Homo sapiens: one gene and its partner. The protein of the gene in region 2 binds, or shares a complex with, the protein of the main gene of each other region. Each region holds a gene or a part of one and is shown on either strand. Other genes may lie near its edges.

The links.
Region 1: KLHL12 (region 2) and CUL3 share a complex: the UniProt entries of both Homo sapiens proteins name them as parts of the BCR(KLHL12) E3 ubiquitin ligase complex.

What each region holds. Positions count from the first base shown.
Region 1 is NC_000002.12:224,566,517-224,582,804, forward strand, and holds part of CUL3 (cullin-3), read right to left. Parts: intron 3,440-16,288; exon of another isoform or gene 3,257-3,439; coding exon of another isoform or gene 3,173-3,256; intron 1-3,172. UniProt on the Homo sapiens protein: Core component of multiple cullin-RING-based BCR (BTB-CUL3-RBX1) E3 ubiquitin-protein ligase complexes which mediate the ubiquitination and subsequent proteasomal degradation of target proteins.
Region 2 is NC_000001.11:202,919,353-202,935,698, forward strand, and holds the start of KLHL12 (kelch-like protein 12), read right to left. Parts: upstream 7,883-16,346; 5' UTR 7,737-7,882; intron 5,856-7,736; coding exon of another isoform or gene 5,811-5,855; coding exon 5,616-5,810; intron 557-5,615; coding exon 403-556; intron 1-402. UniProt on the Homo sapiens protein: Substrate-specific adapter of a BCR (BTB-CUL3-RBX1) E3 ubiquitin ligase complex that acts as a negative regulator of Wnt signaling pathway and ER-Golgi transport.

The DNA of each region.
Region 1 (16,288 bases), on a different chromosome or scaffold from region 2:
CTTTTGTCTACATCAAAAACCTGTTTAGACAGATCCTTTGTCTCCAATGATTTTCTTGATGGTGTCTGGGAACTTGTCTGCTGCCTCTTCAATGGCAGAAGCTGCTTCTCCTATTACCTTGACATTTTTTAAGCCAAACTTCTTTCTAAAAGTATCAAACCATCCTTTGCTGGCATTATATTCTCCAGCTTTAGATCCTTCACCTTCCTTTGACTTTGTCATATAATGACTTTGCTTTTCTTAAATCATATTAGAATCAGTAGGTATACTTTTCTTACAGCAATCCTGCACCCACATACAAGCTGCATATTCAATATGAGATAAAAAAGTATTTTGCAAAAAGCACAAGGTTTTTGCACCAGCTGGCACAGGTGTAGCGATGGCTTCACAAACTTCCTTTTAACAATGGTCCTGGCTTCATTTACCTTGAAATGGCAGGTAACCACAGCTGCAGAACTTAATCTAGTACACATCAAGCAATTCAACAATTTCTTGTAACGTCATGACTTTTCTCTGCTTTTTGGGAGCACTTCCAGGTTCACTGGGGGCACGTCGAATGGGTTCCATCGTGTTATTCCAGGTTTACAGTTTTCCACTAAACATAATGAAAAATATGTGAAAACCGCAAAAGAAAACTTTTTACTACACTACAGAGAGAAACTGCTCACACGAAGATGATTAGTCACAAGGTGTTTTTCTCTTTGTTTTCGTTTTTGTTTTAGACAGGGTCTTCTTCTGTCACCAAGGCTGGAGTGCAGAGGTGCAATCATAGCTCACTGCCGCCTCAAACTCCCAGGTTCAAGGGATCCTTCCGTCTCAGCCTCCTGAGCAGCTGGGACTACCGTTGTGTGCCACCATGCGTGGCTAATATTTTTAATTTTTTTTGTAGAGATGGGGGTCTTGCTTTGTTGCCCAGGGTGGTGTTAAAACTTCTAGGCTTCGGCCGGGCACGGTGGCTCACGCCTGTAATCCCAGCACCTTGGGAGGAAGAGGTGGGCGGATCACCAAGCCAGGAGATCCAGATCATCCTGGCTAACACGGTGAAACCCCATCCCTACTAAAAATACAAAAAAATTAGCCGGGTGTGGTGGTGGGCGCCTGTCGTCCCAGCTACTCGGGAGGCTGAGGCAGGAGAATGGCGTGAACCCAGGAGGCAGAGGTTGCAGTAAGCCGAGATTGTGCCACTGCACTCCAGCCTGGGCAACAGAGTGAGACTCTGTCTCAAAAAAAAAAAAACCTTTCACCTAGTTCACTGCAAGAGCCTTCCAAACACTATGAACTCCAACCTCATGGAATCTACTTCCCTCAAAATCACAATCAAAATAAACATAGGCACACCATGACCCTGTTCAAAACCTTTCTATGGTAGCATAGTAGGCACAGACCTAGTTTATGCTCACTTATCCACACCTGTCTGACATGTATTTCCCAACAACATTAAACCAATGGGAATTCTTAAATATACAACTTGCTGTTTCTCACTCTATTTCCATCACTGTCACAGCCCCTCCCCACTTATTTCAGTTCCCATGTCTTTTTTCCCCCCTGCTTTTGGTCCTCCTTTGCTTTGCCTTTTCTTTATCTGATTCTTTACACATATCTTCTGAACACAGCTAGGTGTCATAACCTCTAGGAATCCTTCACTGAACTCCTCAAGCAAAGTTAACAACTCCTTCTCAGTTCTTCCGTGATATTTTATAGTGTAAACTGTATTTACTTAACTATACACTAAATAAACTGTAGTGTATTTTCGTTTATATGGGAATGTGGTGATAGTCTATAACTACTAGTGACAGTTTGTAACCATCACTACACTCCCATGTAGCTGAATTATCTGTTCATGCATCTTCCTCCACTAGACTATGAGCTTAAGAGATTATGCATTTTTCTTCAATGCCACACAGAAGGTTGTAAACAAATGTCTGTTGAATGAATACTACTTTATCCATGTTATACCAATGTAATTTTGACAACACAAACTTTTTACTTATAAGGCACAATGATACAGGAAAACGGTTGAATGTGTTTACCCTCAGCAATTAATCTAATTTTTAAATAATCAAATCTTTTTCTAACAGAAGTAGTGTACAAGTAACACACTTTTAAATTTTACATCAAGCAATATTTTCAGATTTTTCCCATTCACCTAAAGGCCTCACCCAGAAGGCTGCTTAATCATTAATTTTACTAATAAATATTAACTGGGAAAAAAAGGGTAGACGAAATAGGCCCTTCAGAAGCAGATCAATAAGCTACAATCTTTCCCTAAATCAAATAAGTCCAAAAACTACATATCAAATGAAATGGGCTTCAAGTGCAGATTAATACATACACATGATCGGGTCTTGGCATCAAATGCACGTCAACATCCTTGGCAAAATAATTATGTTACTAATGAGCTTTAATCTTTCCACTTGCCCATCCCTGACACAGAAGCAACATTAACTGCTACTGAAAAATTTTTTAAATGCCTAAATGTTCAACTCTCACCTCATCAATATGTTAACAATAAAAACTTTAAGCTATACTTCATTCCAGGAGCAATAAAATTTAAAGGCTCTAACTTTATGTATTAATATATTTTTTAAAAGAGAAGTAACATTCTTTTAAAGTAACATTCTAAATTACTTGAGCAGGGCTTTAATCCCATTGATAAACTGATTAAGTTGCAATAACTGCAAATACACTAAGGGATCTAGCAACTAATGCGTCAGCAAAACAATAAAATAAACTGCACACACATTTATCATCTATATACACAAACATGTAATATTTGCTATCTAATTATCAGATGTATACAGGACCCTTCCCCAAGAAGGCCAAGTTACAAAATGATCAGCAAGCAAATTAAATTCATTCAGCAGAAAAAGAAACAAAAGCTTTTTTAAAGGAAAAATATAATTAAGGATTCTTAAATGTTTATAGTTTAGTAAGACTTTCAAAAACCAAGTCAAGAATTTAATTTTTGAAAGTGATCTTTGCCTCCTTACCTCCCTCCAATCCAGGATTACAATTTTCCCATCAGAAAAGTATCAATAACAAAAATAAATCTATAATGGTCTTTGTTTTCTTTAAAGCAAAATCTTTTCATTTACATTACTTCAGATGATATAAAAAATATAACCTTCAAAATGCCTGAATTTGAAAGGATGTCAGTCTATTATATACTTACACATCTTGAAGGTTCTGTGATTACTGAGAGAACTACATCATGAGACAAATTAAAACTAAATGAAAAGAAGTGAATTCTTAACATCTACTACATACAAAGGACAAGAAGTCTTTAGTCCTCTGTGAATAATTTTCTACAAGAAAAAATTTAGAACAGGGTGGGTGGGGGAAAGGGTGAGAATTTGAAATTCCAGGCAATTCAGAATGACACAGCTAGAAAAAAAATAAACAAGGGAAAATACTTGATCTTAATTTCAAGCTCCAGTCTCAAAAAAAAAAAAAAAAAAAAAAGCTTTGGTACAAGCATCTGAGGAATGGCAGTATTTTTTAAATCTGATACAACTAAACTATTAATTACATAAGGAAGCTCCCTCCCAAACTGTAAGCACCTCACAGTAGATAAGGTCTTTATGTTATTGTACCCCTTACAATGCGTGGCACAATGTATAGATAATATTAAAAAAAAATGATCTGAATACAGTCCATTTGCAGTTAATGATAAGGAGTCTTATTTGATGACCAAACAGTATACAACTACTTATGACATCTGCAATAATACCATTTATCCATCAATTATTCCTTAAGCAACATCAACCATCAAAAATGTAGCCAAAGATCCAAGCTTTGAGAAAAACAGCCCAGTGGGACACATTCAAACAGACTTTGAACAAATTAACCTTTCAAAGCTCACTTTCCTCATTTGCTTGTGGCCAGAGAAACGTGAGACGGTGGACTGTGGGGTAATTAAGAAAGTCTGTGAAAGCATCTGGCACACAGCACTTGCTCAATAAATATGTTTGTTTCTTCCTTGCCTATGTAGAAGAGACATATAGCCTTGATTAGTGACTTAAAACTGAATGTAAAAACTACTGATGTTTGGTTAACTGGTTTCTCTGGTTACAGTGGAGAACAGATGGGAGTGGGGGAGTGCTGCCAAAAAAAGAGCTGATGCCAAGGAAAAAGAAAAAAAAAGATTATCAATTAGAAAAGCACAGCAGCATGGGACAATTCCATGAAATCACAACCTGATCGACATTCAATTGGGCTCTAGTATCATTACATTACAGAACAGTAACATTCATAATGAGAAAGTTAAATCATCAATAGAAGGTTCAATTATGATTTGCATTTCAGTCCTCAATATGAGTAGGCTATCCAAAACTCAATTTGAGAATGTGGGAAATGTGAAACAATTTTTTCAAAGACACAAGGTCAAGCTTCCAGATTAGCCTATTTAAGTCCATTTAAGTCACAGAGCAATTGAGCTAAAAGTACTAACAACTCTTTCGACTATATCTCTGTGAATGACTTTTGCATATATAGAAAAAAAGGTATGTATAACATTTCAAAATGTGATAATGACCACAACAAATAAGATACAATAATGTAAGTACTCTCACTGAGGTAAAAAGCTTGTCACTGTCCTACTATTGGTGCTATTTCCACCCATAAAAATAGAGATGTTACAGGACTCCCTTAAACACATTTTATCCAAAAAACACAGTAGTCATCATAACTAGAATTCAAACATTGTACTTACAGACCCTCTATATTAAGAAAATTAGTGATTATATCTAAAATCAACACTTCAAAATAAAATTTGTTGTATTTCCCAATATACTATGAAATCCAAAACACTACTATTTATACTATTTAACACTACTATTTATTTATACATGGGTCACATGTATATAAAATTACTTTTTACACATTCATCTATGATAATGTATAAAAACTCTATAAACTGTAAGACAATGACAAATTGATTGTACCTAAATCAATTACACATAACCCAAAGGGAAAGGAAAAAAACATACAAAATACCGAACTGCCATAGTTTGCTCTGTCTTTGAATGATTCTAACTGTAATCAAATAAGATATGACAGCAAAAGGTCTATGACACAAAATTGTTACAAAAATCTGCTATAAGTCTGTTTAAAACTTTCCTACAACTGTCAACTCACCAAAAAAAATGTACACAAGAACACAGCTAACTTTCCCACTGCTTCACATTAGAACTTAACCATCATCACTGAACCATACCATTCATAAAGAAAAATCTAAGACTAAAAAGTAAGTAATTTTTGCAACATCACACAAAATATTTCAAACAAAGGCCACAGGAAAAGACACTAGTAGTCGGTGCCTAGATTTATGTATAAACACAATTGTCTTTTACTGAAATTTTTGGAGCTAGAATAAGCCTAAGGTAACCCCAAGTTAAAACCTCTTCATTTCACAAAGAAGAAACTAAGGCTAAGGAAGCTTATCCAAGATCACACAGAGCAATGAAGGAGTCCAAGTGTCCTAAGCTGAGTGTCCTTCCAGGGTACCATGTCAACTCAAATAATCAGAGTGCTCAATACTGAGAAATCATTTTATAATTAAATAGGCCAGTGTTAACATTGAGTTATTACGGCTACATGTTTGTTTCAGTCTGCTAAAGAGAAAAGAGCTTTTAACCAGAAATCAAGCTTCTGGTCATGGTCCTTCCATAAATTCAAGTCAGGAGTGTATCCCTTGGTAAACCACTTTCTCTAGACCCCTGTTTGCTCATCTGTTGAGAAAGAACAGATTCTCTCAAAAGTCTCTGCCACGGTTTGAATGCCTGTGTCTCCTCCAAAATTCATGTTGAAATTTAATCATCAATTTAACAGTATTAAAAGGTACGGCAATGCAGGTGCAGCAGCTCACGCCTGTAATCCTTGCACTTTTGAAAGCCAAAGTGTGTGGATCATTTCAGCCCAGTAGTTTGAGACCAGCCTGGGCAACACAGTGAAACCCTGTCTCTTAAAAAAAAAAAAAAAAAATTGCTGCTGACCTGCACCTGTCGTCCCAGCTACCCAGGAGGCTGCGGTGAAAGAATCCATTAGGCCCTGGAGGGCATGGCTACAGTTAGCCAAGATCAAGCCACTGCAATCCAGCCTGGGTGAGAGTGAGAGAAAAAAAAAAAAAAAAAAAAAAGGTGGGGTCTTCAGGAAGTGATTAACTCATAAGGGTAGAACCCTTGTGAATGGGATTAGGTGGCCTTATAAAGGAGGCTGACAGAGAGTTTATTTTTTTGCCCTTCTGTCTCTGCCATGTGCAGATACAGGATTCGTCCCCACCAAAGAATTCCGAGAGGACAATGCATCAAGACATCGTGTCGGAAGCAGACAGCAGCCCTCTCCAGACAGCAGAACCTGCAGCACCTTGATCTTGAACTTCCCAGCCTCCACAAATGTGAGAAAATGCATTTCTGTTCTTTATAAATTACTCAGTCTGCAGGATTTTGTTATAGCACCACAAAAAGATTTCAAGAGTCACTTTTAGCCCTCAAAAATTAAAATACTAACACAAGAGCACACAAATTATTATTTGGCTAGTGATAGCATTCATCAAAAAAGCATTATTTCTTTCATGTTGCATTTGCGTACACCAAAAGTAGTAAATTATTACTAGAGAATTTAATCTTTGTATTTCTAATACATTTTACTGTTTAATCTATCTCTTTAGTATATTCTTAAAGACAAAAAATCAAAAATCAAAGTATTTTAGACATATTAACTTCAAGGAATCACTTTTTGCTAAGTATATACTTAAATTTCTATTAACCAAATTTTTTTAATGTGTGTCGTCGGCCTTACAATTTAAAGTAGCAAAGTGTTAACTCATAAATAGGTCAACTAGTAATAATAAGCCTTTCTTACAGGTTATGCTTTTGACTGCTTTATTCAAGTCAATACACACTAAGGTCCCCTTAAACAAGTTATATATTCAAATGTTACTGAACAATACACATTTCCCAAGTTTTTCATAACTTTTATAAATGGTCCATTTACTTAAAGCCAGTAAAACTTAAGCTTACGAAGGAAGCTTACGAAGGCTTCTTCCAACTCCTGGAACCTGAAGGTAGATTCTTTTTGTAAAGAGAGTAGTGCATTGTATAAGCTTCAGCGTCCCCAGATCTGCCCCTGGCTAATAATTTAAAAGGTAACCTTAGAATTAATTTTCTGTATAATGAAAACAACATGAACTTTTCAGTCAGACATACCTAGAATCTGAATCCCAACTCTGCCCTTCTCTAGGCGTATATGTAATATCATAAATATTTTACTAGTCCTCTCTGAGACCCAAATAGATTTAAAACAGGAGTAACCACATTATACTTAAAATTGTTTTCAGGATTTCAGATAATTAGTTAAAAGTATCTAAAACAGCCTACCACAAGTCAGACATTCAACAAGTTGTCACTAATCTTACAAGGCAACCTCTAGTGGAAATGGAAAGGAATTGGAGATGAAAAAGAAAAAGGAATTTTTCACCATTACTTTGGAGAGGACAGGGCAAACAGAAGAGGCTAAGTGTTGCTCAGTTAAGAGCTGTTTTAGGTAAGAATGACTTACAAACACATATGTGAAGGAATTCCTCTTAGCAATGATGGCTTGCTTTTATAAGAAAGTATCTCTAAGGAATCTTATATTTTCTTAAAGTAGGTAAAAATTCCCCTTTGAAGTCGTTTTATTCATCTGCTCAGCAGTAACATTTCTCATTTAAAGAGTAAATTTGGGTCCAATCCTTTCTCAATGATTACAAGTACTAAATGGAGGTCAAATTAGGAAGTTTTGCTTAGTTACATTTTCAACTTTAAAACTGAATTTAAAAAAAAGAATGCTGTCTAGTAGCAACAGATTTGGATTAGGAGTTAAGGCAACTACAGGATCAGTTCTCAATTTCCTATTAACCGTTATCAAGTTGAGCAAGTAGTATTCTCCTCACCTTTAAAAAAGATTCATTAATAATTATTACTAGTGATTTTAAAGCAATGGTTAACAGCATTTCTTAAAATGAAATCTTTTACAGAACCCCATATACAAATGGTAACACAGGAGCTGCTCTCAAGGACCACAGAGGGAGCTTTCAAAGATTTCTACTTAACACTTCCTAGGCCTCCTGGGTCCTAGACACCCTCCAGGCTCCCTGTAAACGTTTGAAAATAACTGCCCTACATGAAACAGAATTATAGTTGAAAATTTTGATTTTATGATTGGGAAATTCTTTTAAATGTCATAGTGATACCACTATTAGCATTTTCTGACATGATTTCATTTAATCCTCACAATTTGTGAAAGACTGCTGTAGTTCTCATCTTAAAGAGGAGGAAACAAACTTAAAGAGTCTGTTAGTTCCTTTATTCAACATTGTGTACTATATGCTGGGTGCGTACTGCTGTACTGATCAAAGTCATAAAAAAGACTGAGGCCTCCTCAAGAAAATTATGCTCTAAAAAAGGAAATAGAGACTCCTCTCTCAAGAATCTTGGCTGTGAAAGGAGGTAGTTACTATAATGCAGAAGACAGGAAAAAGACATTTTCCTTCTCTGAGACCAGAGGGAAGGAGTCGAGAATGAATAAAGATGCAGATTAAATAATATAATTGAAAGGGAAGAATGCTGAATGAACTTCGAACTTTCACCTAATTACATTCCTTTTCACACTGATGTAGTAGTTAGGTTTCTTGAAGTAAGAGCAATTTGAGAATTCTCAAGAGATAGCTTAAGGACAATGATTAAAGTTTGGAATAGCTCAGGCAAGAAAGGGGAGAGGAAGCTGACCAGGGACATAAAGGAAACTGCTCAGAGGCACTGAGAGTCCAGCTAAATTAGAGACCACTGTCTTGCAATTTTCTCCAGGAGTAGCTAGAAAATATGTTCAGTGGGGGCAAATAGGTAGAACGATCCAAGATGCTTTCTGCTGCTATTTCTGGCCTTGTTCTGGGGAGGTAGTAAGAAAGGGGCAACTGGTAACATAGGTGGAAGTGACAGCACCATGGCTTGGGAGAATAAATGGGTCTTCCTGAGATCAAAGGGCACATTAACGTGAGAAGGAACCAAGCAACAAGATAGAATAATTAAATAATAACACCTTGCATTTATGTATAATGCTTATTATGTGCCAAGCACTATTCTAAGAAGCTTTATATGTATTAACTCCATCTTTAAAACAATTTTATGAGGTAGGTATCATCATTTTTTCCTTTTTGCAAAAGAGGGAACAGACAAGACACTAAGTGATTTGCTCAAAGTCCTACATCTAACAAACAGAAGAGCTAGGATAAAATGCAAAATGGAAGTTTGAAGATTTTTAAACTAGTAGGATGACAAGCTCTAAGCGTGAAGATCCCTGCAATACAAGCCTGTCTGATCGCCACTGTAGATCCAGGACCTGACCCATAGCAGCAACACACAATAAACGTATTTTAAATTGAATAAATGAATGACTTCCACATGCAATGAACAAAATTAAAATAGAGGCTAGACATAATATCTGTGAGGAATGTATTAACATAGTATCTGTGAGGAAGGTATTAAACTCCTCAATGACTGAGGGAGCATGAGTTCAGGAAGTCAGATGGTCATAGGGAGAGAGCAGGAGAGTAATTCTCAAGCCAAAAAAGATGATGATGGAAGTGGCAATAAACCACATCTGGGCCCAATAATTCAAGGACTGTAATAGAAACCTCAATTCAAAAAGATAAGCCTGAGAAATAGGGGACCAGAGTGTACAATTTAACAGTGTGACAGGAAGGGATGAGATGCGAAGAACAGTCATGGTGGAGGAAGTGAAATGTAGACCACAGCTAGTAAACAGAAAGACTGGACCGCAGACTAAGTCTTCTAACTCCCAATTCAGGGTCACTGACAATTTCAACTCATTTTTCCAGGAGACTAGGCTGACTACCCTGCTACATACAGAAGTGCCACATGATCTTTAACGACCCTCTACTACATCTTAAGACTTCACTTAGAGTTACAAAAACTTCAAACATTTCAGAGCATCATTTGCGCTGACTCACTGAATTTATCAATTACTATGGTTTGGCTTAGAGGACTAGTTTCTCATGTAATCAATCATTCACTAACCACTCACACTATGCTAAATGCTGCATGGTTCAAAACGATGTCTGGCATAAGCTTTGGACAGGGACCACAACCTAACCTAGTTCAGGAGTGAAAAAAAAGGGGGGGGGGGGAGGAGAAGGAGGAGAAAGGGAGGAAAGGAAGGAAAAAAGAAAAACTAGATGTGTTTTTAGATGCACATTTAACGTACATATTATAGAACATGCAAACCAAATGAGTGTTTATTCCTTCAATAAAGTTACAAGAGGTTACACACTTACTCTAAGGATTACATGTGAATCATATATGAACTTCTGTTTTTGAAGCCACCCCTCAAGAGCCAACAGGATTCTTTAAGTATCCCAGTGGTACTAAACCCATATCCTTTGAGAATGCTTTCTTAGAACGATTCACAAACTGGCTCTGCAGGCTTTTCAAAACTTAAGTTCTAGAAGTTGTACAATAAAATGACAGGATCGCTAAAATAAGTGTATGGCATTCGATGTAACTGCTTGCAAAAACAACATCCAATTTTAATATTGGCCTAATCGTGGCTAAATATTGGTATAATAATAGTTAACTATCTGCTAAGTTCTATTTTAAAGCTTTATTTTATTTATCACACAACAAACCTGTAAGGTGGGTCTCATTAGCAGTCTCATTTTACACAGGGGAAAACTGAGGCTACAAGAAGTAACTTGTTAAAGGTTATGCAGCTAGAGGCCGGGCGCGGTGGCTCACGCCTGTAATCCCAGCACTGTAGGAGGATGAGGCAGACGGATCACGAGGTCAGGAGATCGAGATCATCCTGGCTAACACGGTGAAACCCCGTCTCTACTAAAAATACAAAAAAATTAGCCAGGCGTGGTGGCAGGCACCTGTAGTCCCAGCTACCAGGGAGGCTGAGGCAGGAGAATGGCGTGAACCCGGGAGGTGGAGCTTGCACTGAGCTGAGATCACGCCACTGCACTCCAGCCTGGGTGACAGAGCGGAGACTCTGTCTCAAAAAAAAAAAAAAAGGTGATGCAGCTAGAAAGACATGGAGCTGGTATTCAAGCCCACACTCTTAACTACTATGCTTTCAGTCTCTTTACTTTTTAGTCACATCCCTATATTCATATGTTGAATACTCCAGTGCAAAAGTAAATGAAAATTCTCTACAGACTATTCATAGTTTTATTCTCCTAAGTAGTCAAAGAAATGCAAATTAAAGCATTAAAGTACTATTTTTTCACCTATAAAATTAAACATACATTATGCTGGGTAAGATACTGCTACACAGAAGTTAAACGGATACAACCTTGAGAAATATAATTAATTCTTAAGAGTGCTCACTTTAGAGCCAGATTGCTTGGGTCAGAATCCTAGTTCTGCCACTTGGAAGAATACCTTAAGCAAATTATTTAGCCTCTCAAAGCCTCATTTGTAGAACAGATAATAGTAGTATTCAATAGAGTTTGCTCAAATGATTAAGTTTAGATATGCAGAGTACATGATAAGCATTTAGAAAGTGTTAGCTATTATTATTACCCTTATGGAGGTCAATTAGGTAATATATTTCAGTTACGTGCAGCCCAATAATTCCATAATCATAGATGGACTCAAATATTTATGTGTCTAAATAGTCATAGTTGCAATCTTTTTTAACAGAAAAAATATGGACTCCCTGGAATCAACCAAAATATTTGGCAATAGGGAAATGGTTAAGCAAACTGAAGTATGATAGTCATTAAAAACTATGTTTTCAAAAATTTACAGTAAGAAATTTTTTAACAGCAGCATATACAATGATTATCTTACCTTAATTTTACTGTCTGTTCAGCCAACAATATGAAATTAAAATTCCAAAAACACATGAAAATGTTAATGTTGTTTGTTTCCAAGTGGTAGGATTACAGGTGATTTTTTTTATTTCCCTACTTGTACATTTAGATAATTATCAATTTTTCTACCAGGAATATACATCATTGTTATAATTAGAAAAGCTACTAAAATAAATTCATTGCTTTAACAGACTATGGTTGAATAGTTTTCACAAGACACTGATAGACTAATAACTAATTGTAATTCATGTGTTAACTCAGTGATTTGTTCTTACTAGTAATACCTTTACATTCTGTTGACCTTACAATGGGCTAACAAGAACTACTTTTAAAAAAAAGTTGCATTATTTAAAACTACAAATTGTCTAGTAACTTTTATATAAACCTAACAGGACTACTAAAGACCATCCATGTACTCTGGAATGAAAATAACAAAAAATTCCCTTTAAAGTCCCCCAATGTATAATATAAAAAAAAGGCATACCACTTTTTCTAGCCTTAATCATATAATCTTCCTGAACTGGACAAATGCTTTCATCCCTTAACTTCATTTAATGAATGATGTACAAACAAATGAAGCATTCTCTAATTTGTTTGAATCAAGTTTGTGATTTATGTATTACTTAAAAAGCCAAATTTTTACATTATATTTCATATTACTTAAATAGTTTCTAATTCAATATTGGTACTAATAATTTTCCAGGTTCCTCTGAACTGCTATCTAGAAAGACAAGACAAAATAAATACTTTGTTAATAACAACCGTATGCTTTTATTTTTCTAACTTCTAAAGTCATAGTAGTACTAACAGCTATGACAATACTGGCTGTCCCAAAACTATAAACAGTATTAGTTTAAGTATAAGTAACACTTTAATGAATCTGTTTCACTTTGTTTCATAACATGAAAAATGAAAAGCAAATTTATAATTAATTCTCTGCTCAGTGTGATCTGCAAGACTACCATCCAGCTTTCCTCTATGTACCAGTCCAGGTAGTACTATGCCAACAACTACCTTCCCTAAGAAAGAGAAACCTACTATGAAGATGAAAGCTGTTCCCTCAAATCTGGCAAACATTTCTGTAGCTCGAAGAAAAGAAAAAAAAAAAAAGATTAACTGTACCCATCTGTCCTTAAGACTCTTCCTGTTCTTAAGTATATCACAAATGAACATAAAACTCCTTCACTAATGTGAGTCGCCCTGTATGTTCCAGCTAACAATCACTTCCAAACAGTTGCTGTCCATGCTACACAAGTGGAGTTCCTCTAGCATTAGGGAGTGGGCATTTTATCATAACACTCTTTCTCCTGATGAGTTAGCAAGCTTTTATAAACTAACTGAAGCTACTTCCAGGACCCCAGGGTAGAGATCTTAAGAGCCTGATTACATTCTGGAGACAGTCACCTTCATAACAGGTTTCCCAAACTCTGAAGGCTAGGCCAAGAAAGGCTTTATTACCGTTTGATACAGGAAAGGACAGCATTTTCATTCAAACGTATCCTCTCCAATTCTAATCAAGCTCATCAAACCCATGTGGGCAAAACCCCAGACAGTAAAAATGGTAAGAAATGATTTTTCAAAGATAAAGATAATAAAAGGTTCACCTGAAAGCAACTAATCCTACATAGTGGAACAAAGCCCAGGAGTAAGGAAGAGACTCCCTGGGGCAGAATTATTTGATCCAGACCCACATTATTTCCAGAAGTTTCACAATTACAGCCTGCTTTCTTTAAAAAGTTTTGTGGTCCTTGTTCCTCTGCATACAAATTAAAATTTAAACATTATCAAAAAGATGTGAAATGATACATTTTGTGCAAGGCGGGAAAGCTTATAAACTGGAATAAACTTTTCCTTTGTCAACAGCTTACAAATACAGAAACGTCCTTATTGTCTTCCATCTTAAAAAGAACTTCTAGGAAAAGGTCTATTTAAAAATGCAAATTGTGCATTAAACTGTTGTGTATTATAACTTCTACAGACAATGATGAAGGTATACTTAAAATACGCACTAAGGCTGAAACGCGGTGGCTCACAGCTATAATCCCAGCACTTTGCGTAACAGCGGTGGGCTGATCACCTAAGATCAGGAGTTCAAGACCAGCCTGGCCAACATGGCGAAACCCCATCACTACTTAAAATACAAAAATTAGCCAGACGTGGTGGCGCAAACCGGTAGTCCCAGCTACTTGGGAGACTGAGACACAAGAATCGGTTGAACCCAAGAGGTGGAGGCTGCAGTGAGCCAAGATCGTGCCACTGCACTCTAGCCTGGGCGACAGAGCAAGACTCTGTCTCAAAAAAGAAAAAAAAAATGCACTCAAAACACTAAAAAGAATCTGATATTACTGATGGGAATTTATCTGGAGTAGTATCTATAAAATATCCAGTAAGTTCAATTACCACTCTATTTTGCAATGAAAACAATCTCAAAACACAATTCTATATTTTTTTACAAGTTAATTTTGTAAAACAATCTGAGATGAGTGCTTGAGATTTTTTTTTTTTTTTAAGACAAGAGTCTTGCTCTAAGGCCTAGGCTGGGGAATGAAAGAAATGGGGGCGTGGATTTTGGTCAAAGGATACAAGTTTTAAGATGAATACATTGTGGAGATCAAATGTGCAGCACAGTTAAGAACAGTTAATAATACTATATTACATATTTTACATTTGCTATGGCAGTAGATCTTACTTGTTCTCATCACACAGACATAAAAAACAGAACTATTGGCCGGGCGTGGCGGCTCACACCTGTAATCCCAGCACTTTGAGAGGCCAAGGCAGGCGGATCACGACGTCAGGAGTTCAAGACCAGCCTGACCAACATGGTGAAACCCCATCTCTACTAAAAAGACAGAAACTAGCCAGGCGTGGTGGCACACGCCTGTAATCCCAGCTACTTGGGGAGGCTGAGGCAGAAGAATCGCTCGAACCCAGGAGGCGGAGGTTGCAGTGAGCTGAAACCGTGCCACTGCACTTCAGCCTGGGTGACAGAGCGAGTTTCCATCTCAAAAAAAAAAAAAAGAGGTGATTATGTGTTAGCTTGATGGTAGTAATCATGTCAGAATGTATACATATATCAAAACATCATGTACATCTTAAACATATATAATTTTTCTTTTCTTTTTTTTTTTTTTGAGACAGTCTCACTCTGTTGCCCAGGCTGGAGTGCAGTGGCACGATCTTGGCTCACTGCAACCTCTGCCTCCCAGGTTCAAGTGATTCTCGTGCCTTAGCCTCCCGAGCAGCTGGAATTATAGGCGTGTATCACCACACCTGGCAAATTTTTGTATTTTTAGTAGAGACAGGGGTTTGCATGTTGGCCAGGCTGGTCTCCAACTCTTAACCTCAGGACCTCAGGTGATCCGCCTGCCTTGCCTCTCCCGAAGTGCTAGGATTACAGGTGTGAAGGTGTGAATCACCTTGCCCGGCCGAGTGCTTGACACTTTTGGTGAAACTACAGTTTCCCTTAAATTACAGTAAGTATACATCCAAACAACAGATGTAAAATACAATAATTTTTAAATATGTACATATGTGGAACCATAAACAATTAAGGATGTACATATGTATAACCATAAACAATTTTTTTTTTTGAGACAGAGTTTCGCTTTTGTTGCCCAGGCTGGAGTGCAATGGCGCGATCTCAGCTCACTGCAACCTCGGCCTTACAGGTTCAAGCGATTTTCCAGCCTTAGCTTCCCAAGTAGCTAGGTTTACAGGCATCCGCCACCACGCCCCGCTAATTTTTTGTATTTTAAGTAGAGATGGGATTTCACCATGTTGGCCCGGCTGGTCTCAAAGCTCCTGACCTCAGGTGATCCACCTGCCTCGGCCTCCCAAAGTGCTGGGATCACAGGCGTGAGCCACTGCGCCCGGCCATATTTTTTCTTTACGGAACACTAGGTATTAACTACTTTTGACTAGCAACTCACGCAGTCTGTAGTTATGAACAAGACTGCCAATCTGGAAGACAGGAATTTTGAAGGTCTATAAGCACACGGTTAGTAAGATAAATCTATGAAACACCCTAACACTGAGATATACATCTATCTGTAACAAAGGGCCATAAACTGTAATAGTTCTTTCCAATGGGAATCACTTAGGAATGTTATTAATACTTATTAAACAGTAATGAAAAATTCTTTTAGAAATCAGCAGCTATTAACTACTGAATACCAAAACTAGTCACTTACTTCATGTAAGGTTTTCAGAAAAACCTGCAAAAGTTATAGACAGAATGGATCCAAATTAGCTCATAATCATAACGAAGCTAACAAAAAAAAATTCAGTTCCAGTACTATGTGGTAACGTATCACACAACGTTATTATACTGGTCAGCTAAAGGAATAATGAAATTCTCTCCCACCTCTTCTCCCCAACAATATTAGCTCCAAAAGGCAGGGATCTTGGTCTTTC
Region 2 (16,346 bases):
TTTCATGTATCTTAATGAAATACTACCACTTAATGGCCAGATAGATAAAGAGTATCCATGTAGGCTATGTATAGTATCACTTTTTTATTATATTTCCTTATAGGTGTGTTACATACATGTATGTAAGAAAACACATAATTTCTCCTTCCTCCATTTTTTTTTTAAAACAGAAAAGGTGCAAATGCTCTCTTTTATAGAGCCAAATACTCATATCTGGAGAAGTTCCTTTATAGTGCTATTGACATCTGATCTCTTATTGCTCAATGAGACAAAAGCCATGGCCAGCAAACATGAACATCCATAGTTTGTCTCCAAAATGTTCATGATTAAGTTTACACTATTAATTTTCAACCTTTCCAGGGCTATTTTGACATAAACAATAGCAAGTTTTAATGTCTGTACCTTTCAACTGAAGCAGACAGGCTGCAGGAAGCAGTTCTTGTACATTCTCCACTGTCACATGTACTGTTTCTGTGTACACAAAGTCCAATAAAATTTCCATGGTAGAGGCAGTCAAACCTTGGATGTCAACATAAGGTTTCCCCTTCTCTGAGAGCTGAAAATTCAAAAGGTATAAAAGAATGATGGTTATAATTCCACAAGATAAAGGCAGAATCTCATATCTAAGAGCTTAGAGATGTTAATAATATTAATTGAACATTTATCTTTAAAAATTACAGGCCAGGCGTGGTGGCTCATGCCTGTAATCCCAGCACTTTGAGAGGCTAAGGCAGGCAAATCACCTGAGGTCAGGAATTCAAGACCAGCCTGGCCAACACAGTGAAACCCCGTCTCCACTAGAAATACAAAAATTAGTTGGGCATGGTGGCACATGCCTGTAGTCCCAGCTACTCAGGAGGCTGAGGCAGGAGAATTGCTTCAACCCAGGAGGCGAAGGTTGCAGAGAGCCAAGATTGTGCCACTCCACTCCAGCCTGGGCACCAGAGTGAGACTCCATTTCAAAAAAATAAAAAAGAAAGAAAATAAAAAAATAAAATTATGCTCTATTTTGTTGGATTTTTTTTTTTTTTTTTTTTTTTTTGAGACGGAATCTTGCACTGTTTCCCAGGCTGGAGTGCAGTGGTGCCATCTCGGCTCACTGCAAGCTCCACCTCCTGGGTTCATGCCATTCTCCTGGCTCAGCCTCCCGAGTAGTTTGGACTACAGGCGCCCGCCACCACGCCCGGCTAATTTTTTGTACTTTTAGTAGAGACGGGGTTTCACCGTGTTAGCCAGGATGGTCTCGATCTCCTCACCTCGTGATCCGCCTGCCTCAGCCTCCCAAAGTGCTGGGATTACAGGCGTGAGCCACCGCGCCCGGCCAATTTTGTTGGATTTTAATAAAGCAAATATGGCACATTATCTGTAGCTTTCCAAATGAAGTAGGTAGTTATCTATACGCCAGGAATAAGTAATAGGTAACACCTTCCTGGAATAGTAATTTTGCCAGTGAATAACTTTAAAAATCTATTTCATATTAAAATACAGATGTATTTACAGAATAGAATGCAAAAGTTCCATGAACATAACACTGGTCCGTGAACTTTTAAGATAAGACACAATATTTCAAAGAAATTTCATGTTCGTAGAGGAGCCTGTGGGTTATAACTCCAGTCTCTCCAGGACTACCTAGTTCCTATCATCTGTCCTTAGACTACTTTTTTTTCCCCTTTGTTGAGATAGGGTCTTGCTCTGTTCCCCAGGCTGGAGTGCAGTGGTGTGATCTCAGCTCACTGCAACCTCTGCCTCCCAGGTTCAAGTGTTTCTCGTGCCTCAGCCTCCCAAGTAGCTGGGATTACAGGAGTACACCACTACAACCAGCTAATTTTTTTTTTTTTTTTTGACACAGTCTTGCTCTGTTGCCCAGGCTGGAGTGCAGTGGCGTAATCTTGGCTCACTTCAAGCTCCACCTCCCAGGTTCAAGCGATTCTCCTGCCTCAGCCGCCTGAGTAGCTGGGACTACAGGCACATGCCACCATGCCTGGCTAATTTTTGTGTTTTTAGTAGAGATGGGGTTTCACCATGTTGGCCAGGCTGGTCTTGAACTCCTGACCTCAAGTGATCTGCCCACCTCAGCCTCTCAAAATGCTGGGATTACAGGCGTGAGCCACCATGCCCGGCCCTTAGACTGCATTTAGTAATGACGAAAAAGAACATGCAGGTCATCCTAAGGGACTTTCTTATGTAACATCATCTGAATACAAATAAATTATTTGTTACTTTTTCAAAATATTGGGTTAGACTAACTGAATTGTTAGCAGTATATTTAGTCTAAATTGTTAGTAGTATATCTTCTTGAAGCTATGAGTATTGATGAGGCCAGATAATCATAGAAAACTGTTTAGCTAAGAGAAGAAATCTTCAATTTTACAGGAAACTATCTGAAAATACCTTATGAAAATTTTACTAGATCTTAATCTTAGTTTAGAAATTCATTTTACTTAAAAAACTCTGGTGCATCTCCATTATTAACTAAATGGCTTTAACGTTTTTTATTTCTCCATCAGCCAGAGAATAACCAAAAAGCACTCTCTACCAAAGCCAAGAACAAAATCAATCCCTAACACTAAAAAAGTCACTAGCACATTATTTTGAAAAAACATATTAGGTTTTATTAACATTTAATACAGTACTAATATTCATAAACAATTACTATCCCAACACATTAAATGCATTTAATAATTATGGTACTGAAATATGTAAGTACATGTATTCCAGAAATTTCTCATTCAATAAACTACATTTCCATCAAATAGTTTAAATATGGAAACAATTTCACTATGTAAGAACTTAGAGCAATTATACATTTTACAGTTATATTTTGCTTTAGAATTTTTCAGCATGCTTCTCATTTACTACTATTTCATCTGATTCTCACAGCAACCTGGTAAGGTAGTTAGGTCTGATATTATTACTATCTAAGAGATAAAGGGGGGCCGGGCACATGGCTCAAGCCTGTAATCCCAGCACTTTGGGAGGCCGAGGTGGGTGGATCACAAGGTCAGGATATCGAGACCATCCTGGCTAACATGGTGAAACCCCGTCTCCACTAAAAATACAAAAAATTAGCCAGGCGTCAAGGAAAAAAAAAAAAAGAGAGAGCGATAAAGGGTCTAAAGATCAAAGAAGATCCAAGACTTTTTTTTTTTTTTGAGACAGAGTCTCGCTCTGTCACCCAGGCTGGAGTGCAGTGGCGTGATCTGGGCTCACTGCCAGCTCCGCCTCCCGGGTTCACGCCATTCTCCTGCCTCAGCCTCCCGAGTGGCTGGGACTACAGGCGCCCGCCACCACGCACGGCTAATTTTTTGTATTTTTAGTAGAGACGGGGTTTCACCGTGTTAGCCAGGATGGTCTTGATCTCCTGACCTCGTGATCCACCTGCTTCGGCCTCCCAAAGTGCTGGGATTACAGGCGTGAGCCACCACGCCCAGCTGAAGATCCAAGACTTAACCAGTCACTTAGCTAGTAAGAGACAGATATCATTCTTATTAAAGTATTTCAGGAAAAAAAAAAGAGAGAGAGAGAGAGACAAAACCCAGGTCCTCCTGCCTCAGTCTTTGTGATCTTTCAATCAGATGACATTTGAGGAGCATTTCATAGCTGAAGAGAACAAGGAAACCATCTAGTTCAACTACTTTATTTTACAGATCAACCCAGTGAAGTTAGATGGTTCCCAGGGTTTATACAGAATTGCTAAGAGAACTAAGCCTAGAATCCAGGTCTCTGGACTCTCTCCTTTGAACAATTACTCTCAAAAATAAAGACAAAACCATCTAGCATTTCCTTGCCTGATGTCAGTTTTTAAAGAAAGAAATCATCACTGATGAGAAAAAAAGAATTCATTTCCAAATAACAAAAGAGTAAAGACACTATTTTCAAGCTGACAAAAAACAGGATGCACAACATATAATTAGCAATCAGCCGTTCTAGTTCATTTCTTGCTCAGCAGCTGCTGGGTGACACTCTCTTTACCCAGTTAAATTCCAAATGCTTCTGATGATCTTGGGTATATCTCATGGAGAACAGTATAGGACAGGGATCTGCCTTGGTATATCACACAAGTTTATTTAAAAATTAGCCTGAATTAGTTGGAATGACCTGTCAGGTTCCTGTTTTCCCTACTAGCCATGTGACTGAGCATTGGCTCATAGTATTTTTAACTATACCAGTTTTAAAATTAGATTGTAGTATATAAAATTCATACTTCGGAGGCTAAGGCGGCACAAGAGTTACAAACTGTTTGGGCTTTAGAGTTGGAAAATATAAAATGAAATCCCACCTCTAGCACTTACAAGCCATGGGACTTTGGGCAAGTGATTTAATATCTGAAACCCTATTCCTTCATTTGTAAAATGAGATGGTAATACCTACCCCTAGGGTGAGTCAGATATGCACAACAATTACTAGCACAGTACCTGGCCCATAAAAGGTAGTTATTACCATCACAGAATACGCCTCTCCCATTCTGATTCAGCAGCAATATCTACACTAAGATGATAGAACTAACTAAAAAAAAAACAAAAAACAAACAAAAAACTTGTGCTTAAAAAGACTTTTAAAACAGTGTTTTCATAATGAAATATTTCAGGCATACATGTAAGTGTAAATTATATAATAAACAGTGATGCACCCACAACTGAGCTTTGAAAAAATAAATCAAGATAATTTATTTAAATCTGCTCTTAAAATGAGACTTGGGATCTTGAAAAACAAAGATTTGCAATGTTATTTTCTGTTCAGCTTTCTAAGAATATTCAACACAATATATTCAGCAGCCTTACTATACATTTCAAGTATTTTGTCAGGCAATTACTAAGTAGTGTTTCTTAATACTTTGTGAGCACTACCTGTATTCTCTCAAGCCAACCTTTTCCTAATTCCCTTTGTTAAGTGCTTATGAGTTAACATCCTTTCTCAGGTTATACACTCAACGCCTGTACAGCTATTCATTAAAAACTCTTCTTCCTTTCATTTGAAGTTATCCTAAAATTTACACTGATTTTCTTCACATATTGTTAGGAGGAGTGGGATGTGGTTTGAATCCTACTCCTCTCTCCTTCCTTCCTCCTTATCCCTCTGGTATTCACTTAAAAATTTTTAAACTTTAGAAGGAAAAAAGGCTGGATGCCGTGGCTCACACCTGTAATGCCAGGTGTGGCCACTCTGGGAGGCCAAGGCAGGAGGATTGCTTGAGCCCAGGAGTTCAAGACCAGCGTGGGCAACATAGTGAGACCCTGTCTCTACAAATAAATAAATAAAATTAAAAACAAAAAAAGGAGAAAAATTGGAAGACAAATTTAAGAAATAGTAAAATCCAATAGCTGACATGTGTGTTTTACTACATATTACACTATTCTAAGCACTTCCTATGTTATTTCATAAAATAATCTTCACAACAACCTTAATAACCATGTGTTACATATTACTATTATCCCTAACTTAAAGATGAGGAAACTAAGGCATAGTCATCTAAGTGGTAGATCTTATCCAGAATCTGCCAAAACATCACACTGTAAAAATTCAAAATTATATCAAACTTCCACTATTTTATTCAGTGAAATTAGACAACTAGAGTTCCACGGGTTTCATTTGTGTGGGGCTAATTTACCACTTACCTCACTAGTGAACATGGCACAGAAGTAATCACTACAGGCAGCCAGCACAATCCGATGGGCAGGGAAGTCTTTCTGCTCTACTCTCAATGTCACATCACAGAGGGTATTGCTCTTCCTGAGGGAGTTCATTGAATTGAGGATGGATTTAGCATGAGTATTTGTCATTATGTCTTTGGGGGCCATAATGCCTCCCATAAAGCAGTGCGGAGAAAGAACAAAATGGGTCCTTGGATTCTGCAACTACAAGAGGGAAAAAAAAACAATGAGCATATTCAAAGAACTAGGGCAACTGAACATATTTAATTAGCTTTACAAATTAAGAACCTAAGAGGCTTCCTCAGACCCAAACATACACAAGTTGAGGGCACTCCTATGCCTGGCATCACCACCAACCACTAGCCACTATCTAGTCCATGTAAAAGCTCTCTCTTCTTCCTCTGAATTCCTCTATCACGGAGTGTCCCTACCACTTGACATTTAATATGATCAATGCTGAAATGTAAGTAGAGATAAACAATATATGTCTTGTAAATCTTGACAAGGTTCTTGTCTCAAATGATAAACCGAAAATATAAAATTTCTTAAAGGTGTTATATTATTACTATTTAATGTCCTTAAGTAGATAAGTATTTAGAGCATACATAAAAAGAGGATCCTGCTTTATATGTATGCTTTCTATCCTAGAAGTTGCACAATAAATGTTTAGAATTTAATGTAAGAAAAAGTGTGTATTCAACTTCAACTTAGAGCAAGAAAGGCCACTCAGTAAAAATAAACTTTTTTCTAAAGAAGTATCCAAATGATATGTCTGATGACTTCCAAACATATCTGGATTTCTTCTTAAAATGAAACTTCAGGCCGGGCCCAACAGCTCACTCCTGTAATCCCAGCACTTTAGGAGGCTGAGGTGGGTGATCAGTTGAGGTCAGGAGTTTGAGAGCAGCCTGGCCAACATGGTGAAACCTAGTCTCTACTAAAAATACAAAAAATAGCCAGGCGTGGTGATGCGCGCCTATAATCCTAGCTACCAAGAAGGCTGAGGCCCGAGAATCACTTGAACCCAGGAGGTGGAGGTTGCAGTGAGCCGAGATCACACCACTGCACTCCAGCCTGGGCAACAGAGCGAGACTCTGTCTCAAAAAAAAAAAAAAAAAAAGAAACTTCAATTGAGGACCCATTACCTACACTGAATAATGGAAACCACGCAAGTTATCGATGGACTTACACTTGCTTAAGATATTGAAGCTCTTCAACAAGAGGGTATTCCTACTCTACATCTGTGAATGTCCATTACTGTTAAAGAATCGATATTGGAATCCAAAACTTTCTGAAATGATCCGGGGGGAAGGAAATCAAACTGTGGTCTCCAAAAGTCCACAAGTCACAATTAATCTTTCAACAGGAAAAATGAGATCCTAAATTCTCATCTACTTCTGTTTGTAGTTGGCATTTTACTCTATAAGCACTATAGATAATTCCTCCAACAACTCTGCAAGACCCATTTTACAGAAAAGCGGGTGATTCATCAAAGCATATGTTTTTCAAAAAGACTTAAGTCAACTTAGTTGCAACTCTAGGGGTGTAAAAAGGTCTAGAACAAATGTCCATTTACTATGAAGACAGCCCGGGGGGTCTTTTATCGTTTCCGTGTCAAAATGACAGTACCCCGGTGCAGAGTGGTCTTCCTTCTAGGGGATTCCTGCCTCAACACTCCAAGTCTCAGCATATCCTTCATCCTCACCCTTCTGAAGTGACCTATTTTCTAGAACTTTCGTTAACATCTGAATGGAGGGATTCCACTTCGGGAGATTCGGGGCAGGGAATGGGTAGTAAACTCGGGAAAGACTAAATTCTAGAGAAGGAAACGAAGTCCTTCCTCCTAATACCACCAGGCATATGGCCGCCACCGCCAGGTGGAGGTATCGGAGAGGGGCAGTTCAGGGGGAGAGTTGAGAGGGTGACCGAGGCCAGATGCCCCACCCCACTGCCAGCCTTCCTCCTCTGTTGGGCATGTCTCCCATTCCGCCTTGCAGGGAGACCAAGGATGGGGGGTAGGGCCATAACCCGGAGTTGACGGACAGGAAGGGAAGGGCTGACTGCCATCACTTCCGCGCAACTCACCTCCGCTCCCGAACCCACACAGCCGCACCGGGCCCGTCCCCAGCCTGTGGGGATGGAGTGCGGCGCGGGGCTAGCAGGCGGCTCGGGAGGAGCCGAAGCGCCGCCCAGACCCGGAGGCTCTGGAGGCTCTGGAGCCGTCCGGGTCTGGCCCCTGCGGCCGCGCGACGTGATGACGCAATGCAGCTGGAGCACCGCCCTCCCCCCGCTCCAGAGTCTGCGTCACGTGAGGAGGTGGTGTCACGTGACCTGTCTGTACCCTAGCGCGGGGCTTCTGTACGCTGCTAGGAAGCCGAATTACAAAAAGGTCGGGTGGGCAGGGAATGGTGGCTCACGCCTATAATCCCGGCACTTTGGCAGGCCGAGGCGAGCGAATTACCTGAGCTCCGGAGTTCCAGACCCGCCTGGGGATCACGGCAAAACCCCGTTTCTACAAAAAAAAAAAAAAAAAAAAAATTAGCCCGCACCGCGCCTGTAGTCCCAGCTACTCGAGAGGCTGACAGGAGGATCACTTGAGCCAGGCAGCAGAGGTTGCAGTGAGCCAGGATCGCCACTGCACTCCAGCCTGGGCCACAGAATGAGACCCTGTAAAAAAAAAAAAAAAAAAAAAATGTCCAGGCGTGGTGGCTCACGCCTGTAATCCCGGCACTTTGGGAGGCCGAGGCGGGTGTATTACTTGAGGTCAGGAGTTCGAGACCAGCCTGGCCAACATGGTGAAACCCTATCTCTACTGAAAATACAAAAAAATTAGCCGGGCGTTGTGGCACGCGCCTGTAATCCCAACTACTCAGGAGGCTAATGCAGGAGAATCGCTAGAACCTGGGAGGCGGAGGTTGCTGAGCCGAGATCGCGCCATTGCACTCCGGGCTGGGCGACCGACTGAGACTCTGTCTCTTAAAAAAAAAAAAAAAAGGCCAGGCGAGGTGGCTCACGCCTGTAATCCCAGCACTTTGGGAGGCCGAGACGGGTGGATCACGAGGTCAGGAGATCGATTCTGGCTAACACGGTGAAACCCCGTCTCCACTAAAAATACAAAAAAATTGGCTGGGCGTAGTGGCGGGCGCCAGTAGTCCCAGCTACTCGGGAAGCTGAGGCAGGAGAATGGCGTGAACCCGGGAGGCGGAGGTTGCAGTGAGCTGAGATCGCGCCACTGTACTCCAGCCTGGGCGACAGAGCAAGACTCCGTCTCAAAAAAAAAAAAAAGAAAAAAGAAAAAAAAGAAAAAACAAAAAAAAGGCTGGATGTTGTGGGGTCCGGCAGGGAGCCTGGGAATGTATCTACAGCTCGGCGATTGGCTGAGCCTGAGTTCCTCCCTACCGCTCACTAGGCAGGGCAGGCAGAGAGAATTCCAACGCTTAATATGCCAAGCATCTGATTGCAGCAAGTATGTTTTACCTTCCAGGTACTGAGGAACTTTTTGACATCGAGAAAACCCACAGAGGCCTCAAATTTATTCACGTCCATTGTCCACAATGGCCTTTTCGGGCCGAACAACGCTGCGGCGAGAATCCTCTGAGCCTTAGGATCCACAGACCTCAGTATATACTCTGCATCATAATGGGCCCTGTCATCACCACTGAATTGATTCTAAGGAAATTCTAATTGATTCAGGAAATTCTAATTTATTTTGGTGCACTTAGTGACTGAAAAGGCAAAAAGCTTAATTAGTTCAGCTTATCTGAATGTCTAGACAAATTGTGTTTGGTAATACTATTATGCTCTGTGAGCCCTTTGATTCTTTTTTTTTTTTTTTTTTTTTTTTGAGACGGACTCTTGCTCTGTCGCCGAGGCTCGAGTGCACTGGCGCGATCTCAGCTCACTGCAACCTCCGCCTCCCGGGTTCAAGCAATTCTCCTGCCTCAGCCTCTCCGAGTAGCTGGGAGTACAGGTGCACACCACCACGCCCGACTAATTTTTGTGTTTTTAATAGAGACGGTGTTTCGCCATCTTGGCCGGGCTGGTCTCGAATTCCTGACCTCGTGATCCGCCCGCCTTGGCCTCCTAAAGTGCTGGGATTACAGGCGTCAGCCACAGCGCCTAGCCCTTTGATTCTTAAGGGTACTAAAACCATAGCCAAGTGGGTAGCATTCTAAATTTACAACGTGTCCCCATCTTCCATGTCATACCTTCCTGATCTAAAACTGTCCCTGACTCACACATTGTAGAGAAGAATGCAAGATTGGTATATTATTGGGGGCATTTTGGAAATATTCGTCGATTTTAATAAAATTTTCCTTCACATATACTCGTGCACATGTAAAACGATGTATGTACAAGATTGTTAACTGCAGCATTGTTTGTAGATTAGATCAACAACAACATTAAATGTCCATTAATAGGGGACTGATTCAATAAGGTATAGTACATCCATAAAATCCAATACCATGAAGCTGTGAACAATTTATATACTCTATTATTGGTGTAAAAAGGTGGAAGATATATTCATATTTGCTTGTGTATGTGTAACATGTATTTGAAAAGACAAAGTGGTAACCTTGGTTTCTTTGGGGAAAGGAACTGTTTGGTTGTGAGACAGGGTGGGAAGGAGATTTTTGCTCTTTGTAATTTATTTTGCCTTTTGAATTTTGCTTCATATGAATTAAAAATAATGTTCAGAGCCTGGTGCGGTGGTGTACACCTACCTGTTGTCCTATCTGCTTTGGAGACTGAAGCAGGAAGATTGCTTGAGCCCCGAAGTTCGTGACCAGCCTGGGCAACGTAGCAAGAGCACGCCTCAAAATATATTTATATGTTCAATTTTTTAAAAAGTAAAAATAGGCTGGGCACAGTGGCTCACGCCTGTAATCCTAACACTTCGAGAGGCCGAGGCGGGCGGATCACCTGAGGTCAGGAGTTCCAGACTGGCCTGGCCAACGTGGCAAAACCCCGTCACTACTAAAAATAAAAAAATTAGCCAGTCATGGTGGCCTGCGCCTGAAATCCCAGCTACTCAGGAGGCTGAGGCCGGAGAATCGCTTGAACCCAGGGAGCAGAGGTTGCAGTGAGCTGAGATCACGCCACTGCACTCCAGCCTGGGCAACAGAGCAAGGCTCCATCTCAAATAAATAAATAAATTAATTAAATTAAATAAAAAGTAAAAATAATTCCTTGTTTTCAGGATGTAAAATAGTACTTTAATGATATTGCCTAATTCCTGACTGTTAAATTAAGGATTTTTCCAAATATGAGAAGGAACTTAATAATAAAAGAGGCTTTGTTTAGAGTATGCCTACTCCTTTTATTCACAAAATAAAAGATGGAGAAGTTGTTAGCAAGATTATCACACCAAAGGAACTAGTTCAGACTTCTGACTTTTTTCTTCTTTTATTTCCTCTTTTTTGTTAATATTTGTCGGTACATAGTAGGTGTATATATTTAGGGGGTACAGAGGGATTTTGATACAGGCATATAATGTGTACTAATCACATCACAGAAAGTTGGGTATCCATCCCCTCAAGCGTTTATCCTTTGTGTTAAAACAATCCAAGTATACTTTTAGTTATTTTAAAATGTACAATTCAATTATTATTGACTATACTTACCCTGTTCTATCAAATACTAGGTCTTATTCATTCTTTCTAGTTTTTCGGTACCCGTTACCCTCCCCACCTTCCCCCAACCCCCACTGTCCTTCCCAGCCTCTGGTAATCATCCTTCTACTCTCTATCTTTGTGAGTTCAATTGGTTGGTTTTTAGATCCCACAAATCAGTGAGAACATGCGATGCTTGTCTTTCTGTGCCTGGTTTATTTCACTTAACATAATGACCTTCAGTTTGATTCATGTTGCTGCAAATGACAGAATCTCATTATTTTTAATGACTGAATAGTACTCCATCATGAATAAGTACCACATTTTCTTTATCCATTCATCTGTTGATGGACACTTGGGTTGCTTCCAAATCTTAGCTATTGTGAACACTGCTGCAACAAACATGGGAGTGCAGATATCTCTATGATACACTGATTTACTTTCTTTTCTTTTTTTTGAGACAGAGTCTCACTCTGTTGCCCATGCTGGAGTGCAGTGGTGTGATCTCGGCTCACTGTAACCTCCGCCTCCCAGGTTCAAGCAATTTTTCTGCCTCAGCCTCCCAAGTAGCTGGGACTACAGGTGCAGGCCACCATGCCTGGCTAATTTTTGTATTTTTAGTAGAGACAAGGTTTCACATATTGGCCAGGCTGGTCTCAAACTCCTGACCTCATGATCTGCCCACCTCAGCCTCCCAAAGTGCTGGGATTACAGGCATGAGCCACCACACACAGTTGATTTACTTTCTTTTGGGTATATACACAGTAGTTGGATTGCTGGATTGTATGGTAGTTCTAGATTTAGTTTTCTGAGGCGCCTCCAAACTGTTCTCCATAGTGGTTGCACTAATTTACATTTCCACCAATAGTGTACAAGGGTTCCCTTTTCTCCACATTGTTGCCAGCATTTGTTATTGCCTGACTTCTGCATAAAAGCCATTTTAACTGGGATGAGATGATATCTCATGTAATTTTGATTTGCATTTCTCTGATTAATTATGTTGAGCACCTCTTCTTATGCCTGTTTACCATTTTTATGTCTTTTTTTGAGAAATGTCTAAATATTTTGCCCAACTTTTATTTTTTAAATATTTATTTATTTATTTTGAGACAGGGTGTTATTCTGTCACCCAGACTGGAGTGCAGTGGTACGATCTCGGCTCACTGCAACTGCTACTCCTCAATGCTGGGCTCTAGCGATCCTCCCACCTTAGTCTCCTGAGTAGCTAGTATTGCGGATGCATGCCACCATGCTCTGTTAATTAAAAAAAAAATTATTTTTTATGAGAAGAGGTCTCACTATATTGCCCAGACTGGTCTGGAACTCTGGACTAAGCAATCCACCTGCCTCAGCCTCCCAAAGTTGGGATTACAGGTGTGAGCCACTGCACCTGGCCTTAACCAGATATAATCAGATTATTAGATTTTTTTCTATAGAGTTGTTTGAGCCCCTTATATATTCTAGTTATTCATCCCTTATCAGATGGGTAATTTGAAAATATTTTCTCCCATTCTGTGGATTGTCTCTTCACTTTATTGATGGTTTCCTTTGCTGTGCAGAATCTTGTTAACTTGATGGGATCCCATTTGCCCATTTTTGCTTTGGTTTCTTGTATTCATGCAGTATTACTCAAGAAATTTTTTCCAACCCCACTGGAAACAAGAATCTTTAAAAAAAAAAATAAAGAAATTTTTGCCCAGACCAATGTCCTGGAGATTTTCCCCAAAGTTTTCTTATAGTGGTTTCATAGTTTGAGGTCTTAGATTTAAGTCTTTAATCCATGTTGATTTGATTTTTGCATATGGTGAGAGATAGGGGTCTAGTTTCATTCTTTTGCATGTGGATATCCAGTTCCCCCAATACCATTTATTGAAGAGACTCTTTTTCCCAGTGTATGTTCTTTGGCAGCTTTGTCGAAAATGAATTCATCATAGGTATGCGGATTTGTTTCTGGATTCTCTGTTGTGTTCCATTGTTCTCTCTGTGTGTTTTTATGACAGTACCATGCTGTTTTGGTTACTATAGCTCTGTAGTATAATTTGAAGTCAGGTAATGTGATTTGTCCCATTTTATTCTTTTTGCTCAGGATAGATTTGGCTACTCTAGGTCTTTTGTGCTTTCATATACATTTGAGGATTGTTTATGTTTCTGTGAAGAATGTTACTGGTATTTTAGAGATTGCATTGAATCTGTAGATTGCTTTGGGTAATATGGACATTTTAACAATATTGATTCTCCCAATCCATGAACATGGAATATCTTTTTATTTTTTGATGTTTTCTTCAATTTCTTTCATCAGTGTTTTATAGTTTTCATTGTAGAGATTTTTTATTTCTTTTTCTTTTTTTTTTTTTGAGATGGAGTCTTACTCTGTTGCCCAGGCTGGAGTGCAGTGGCATGATCTCGGACTACAAGCTCCGCCTCCCGGGTTCACACCATTCTCCTGCTTCAGCCTCCCAAGTAGCTGGGACTACAGGTGCCCACCACCGTGTTAGCCAGGGTGGTCTCGATCTCCTGACCTTGTGATCCACCCGCCTCGGCCTCCCAAAGTTCTGGGATTACAGGCATGAGCCACCGTGCCCGGCCAAGATTTTTTATTTCTTTGGTTAATTCCTTGGTATTTAATTTGTGGTTATTGCAAATAGGATTACTTTTTTTTATTTATTTTTCAGATTGCTTGCTGTTGGCATATAGAAATGCTACTGATTTTTGTATGTTGATTTTGTATCTTGAGACTTTACTGAATTTATCAGTTCTAATAGTTTTTTGGTGGAGTCTTTAGGTTTTTCCAAATGTAAGATCATGTCATCTGCACGCAAAGATAATTTGACTTTTTCCTTTCCAATTTGGATGGCTTTATTTCTTTTTCTTGTCTGATTGCTCTAACTAGGACTTCCAGTACTATATTGAATAACAGTGGTGAAAGTGGGCATCTTTTCAGGTTCCAGATCTAAGAGGAAAGGCTCTCAGTTCGATACAAGCTGTAGGTCTGTCATATACAGCTTTTATTATATTGAGGTATGTTCCTTCTATCCTTAGTCTTTTGACAGTTTTTATCATGAAGGGATGTTAAACTTTATCAAATGCTTTTTCAGCATTAATTGGAAGGATCATATGATTTCATTCTGTTGACATGATATATCACATTGACTGATTTGCATATGTTGAATCATCCTTGCATCCCTTGGAAAATCCCACTTGGTCATGATGAATGATCTTTTTAATGTATTGTTGAATTAGGTTTGAAAGTATTTTGTTAAGAATGTTTGCATCAATATTCATCAGATATGTTGGCCTGTAGTTTTCTTTCTTTCTTTCTTTCTTTCTTTCTTTCTTTCTTTCTTTCTTTCTTTCTTTTTTTTTTTTGATGTGTCTTTGTCTGGTTTTGGTATCAGGGTAATACTGGCCTTGTACAATGAGTTTGGAAGTATTCCCTTCTCCTCTATTTTTTGGAACAGTTTGAGTAGGCTTGGTATTACTCTCATTATAAATGTTTGGTAGAATTCAGCAGTGAAGCCGTCAGGTCCCAGGCTTTTCTTTACTGAGAGATTTTCTATTACAGATTTGATCTTGTTACTTCTTACTGGTCTGTCCAGGTTTTGGATTTCTTCATGGTTCAATCTTGGTAAGTTTTATGTGTCTAGGAATTTATCCATTTCTTCTAGGTTTTCCAATTTATTGGCATATAGTTGCTCATAGTAGCCATTTTTTTTTGTTTTGTTGATCTTTTGTATTGTTTCCTTCATTTCAAATTCATTTATTTCTGCTCTGATCTTTATTATTTCGTTTCTTCTACTAATTTTGGGCTCTGTTTGCTCTTGCTTTTCTAATTCTTTAAGATGCATCATTAGGTTTTTTATTTGAAGTTTTTCTTCTTTTTTGATGTAGACACTTTTAGCTATAAATTTCCTTCTTAGTACTGCTTTCACCATATCCTATAGGTTTTGGCATGTTGTCCTTCCATTATCATTTGTTTTAAGAAATTTTTCAATTTCCTTCTTGATTTCTTCATTGACCCACTGGTCATTCAGGAGCATGTTGTTTGATTTCCATGTGTTTATATAGTTTCCAAAACTCCTCTTGTTATTGATTTCTAGTTTTATTCCATTGCGGTCCGAGAAGATGCTTCATATTATTTCAATTTTTTTGAATCTTTTAAGACTTGTTTTGTGACCTAACATATAGTCTGTCCTTGAAAATGGTCCATATGCTGAGGATAAGAATGTGTATTCTGCAGCCACTGGATGAAATGTTCTGTAAATATCTATTAGGTTAATTTATTCTATAGTGCAGATTAAGTGCAATGTTTCTTTGTTGATAGTTGATATTCTGTCTGGGAGATCTGTCCAGTGCTGAAAGCGGAGTGTTGAAGTCTTCAGGTATTATTGTGTTGGGGCCTATCTCTGTCTGTAGCTCTAATAATATTTGCTTTATATACCTGGGTGCTTCAGTGTTAGATGCATATATGTTTACAAGCGTTATATCCTCTTGCTGAATTGTCCCGTTTATCACTATATAATGATCTTCTTTGTCTCTTCTTGTTTTTGTCTTAAAATCTATTTTCCTTTACATATAAGCATTTCCCCTAATAAAATCTTTGCACATATAATTTCATCTTAGCAAGTGCTTTCCTGAGAACTAGACTAACACACAGGACATCTGAGAATTTCTTTGGGTCCTATTCATTTGCAATAATCCAAGTTTACTAAAGTTCCCAAAGTTGCATTTTTTAAAAATTGAAAATGGGTGTTGTATTAGTCTGTTCTCTCACTGCTAACAAAGATATATCCCAGACTGGATAATTTATAAAGGAAAAAGGTGTGGTTTTTTTTTTTTTTTGAGATGGAATCTTACTCTGTTGACCAGGCTGGAGTGCAGTGGTGCAATCTCTGCTTGCTGCAACCTCCACCTCCCAGGTTCAAGCAATTCTCCTGCCTCATCCTCCCAAGTAGCTGGGATTACAGGCATGAGCCACCATGCCTGGCTGGTTTTTGTTTGTTTGTTTGAGACGGAGTCTCACTCTGTCGCCCAGGTTGGAGTGCAGTGGTGTAATCTTGGCTCACTGCAACCTCTGACTCCCAGG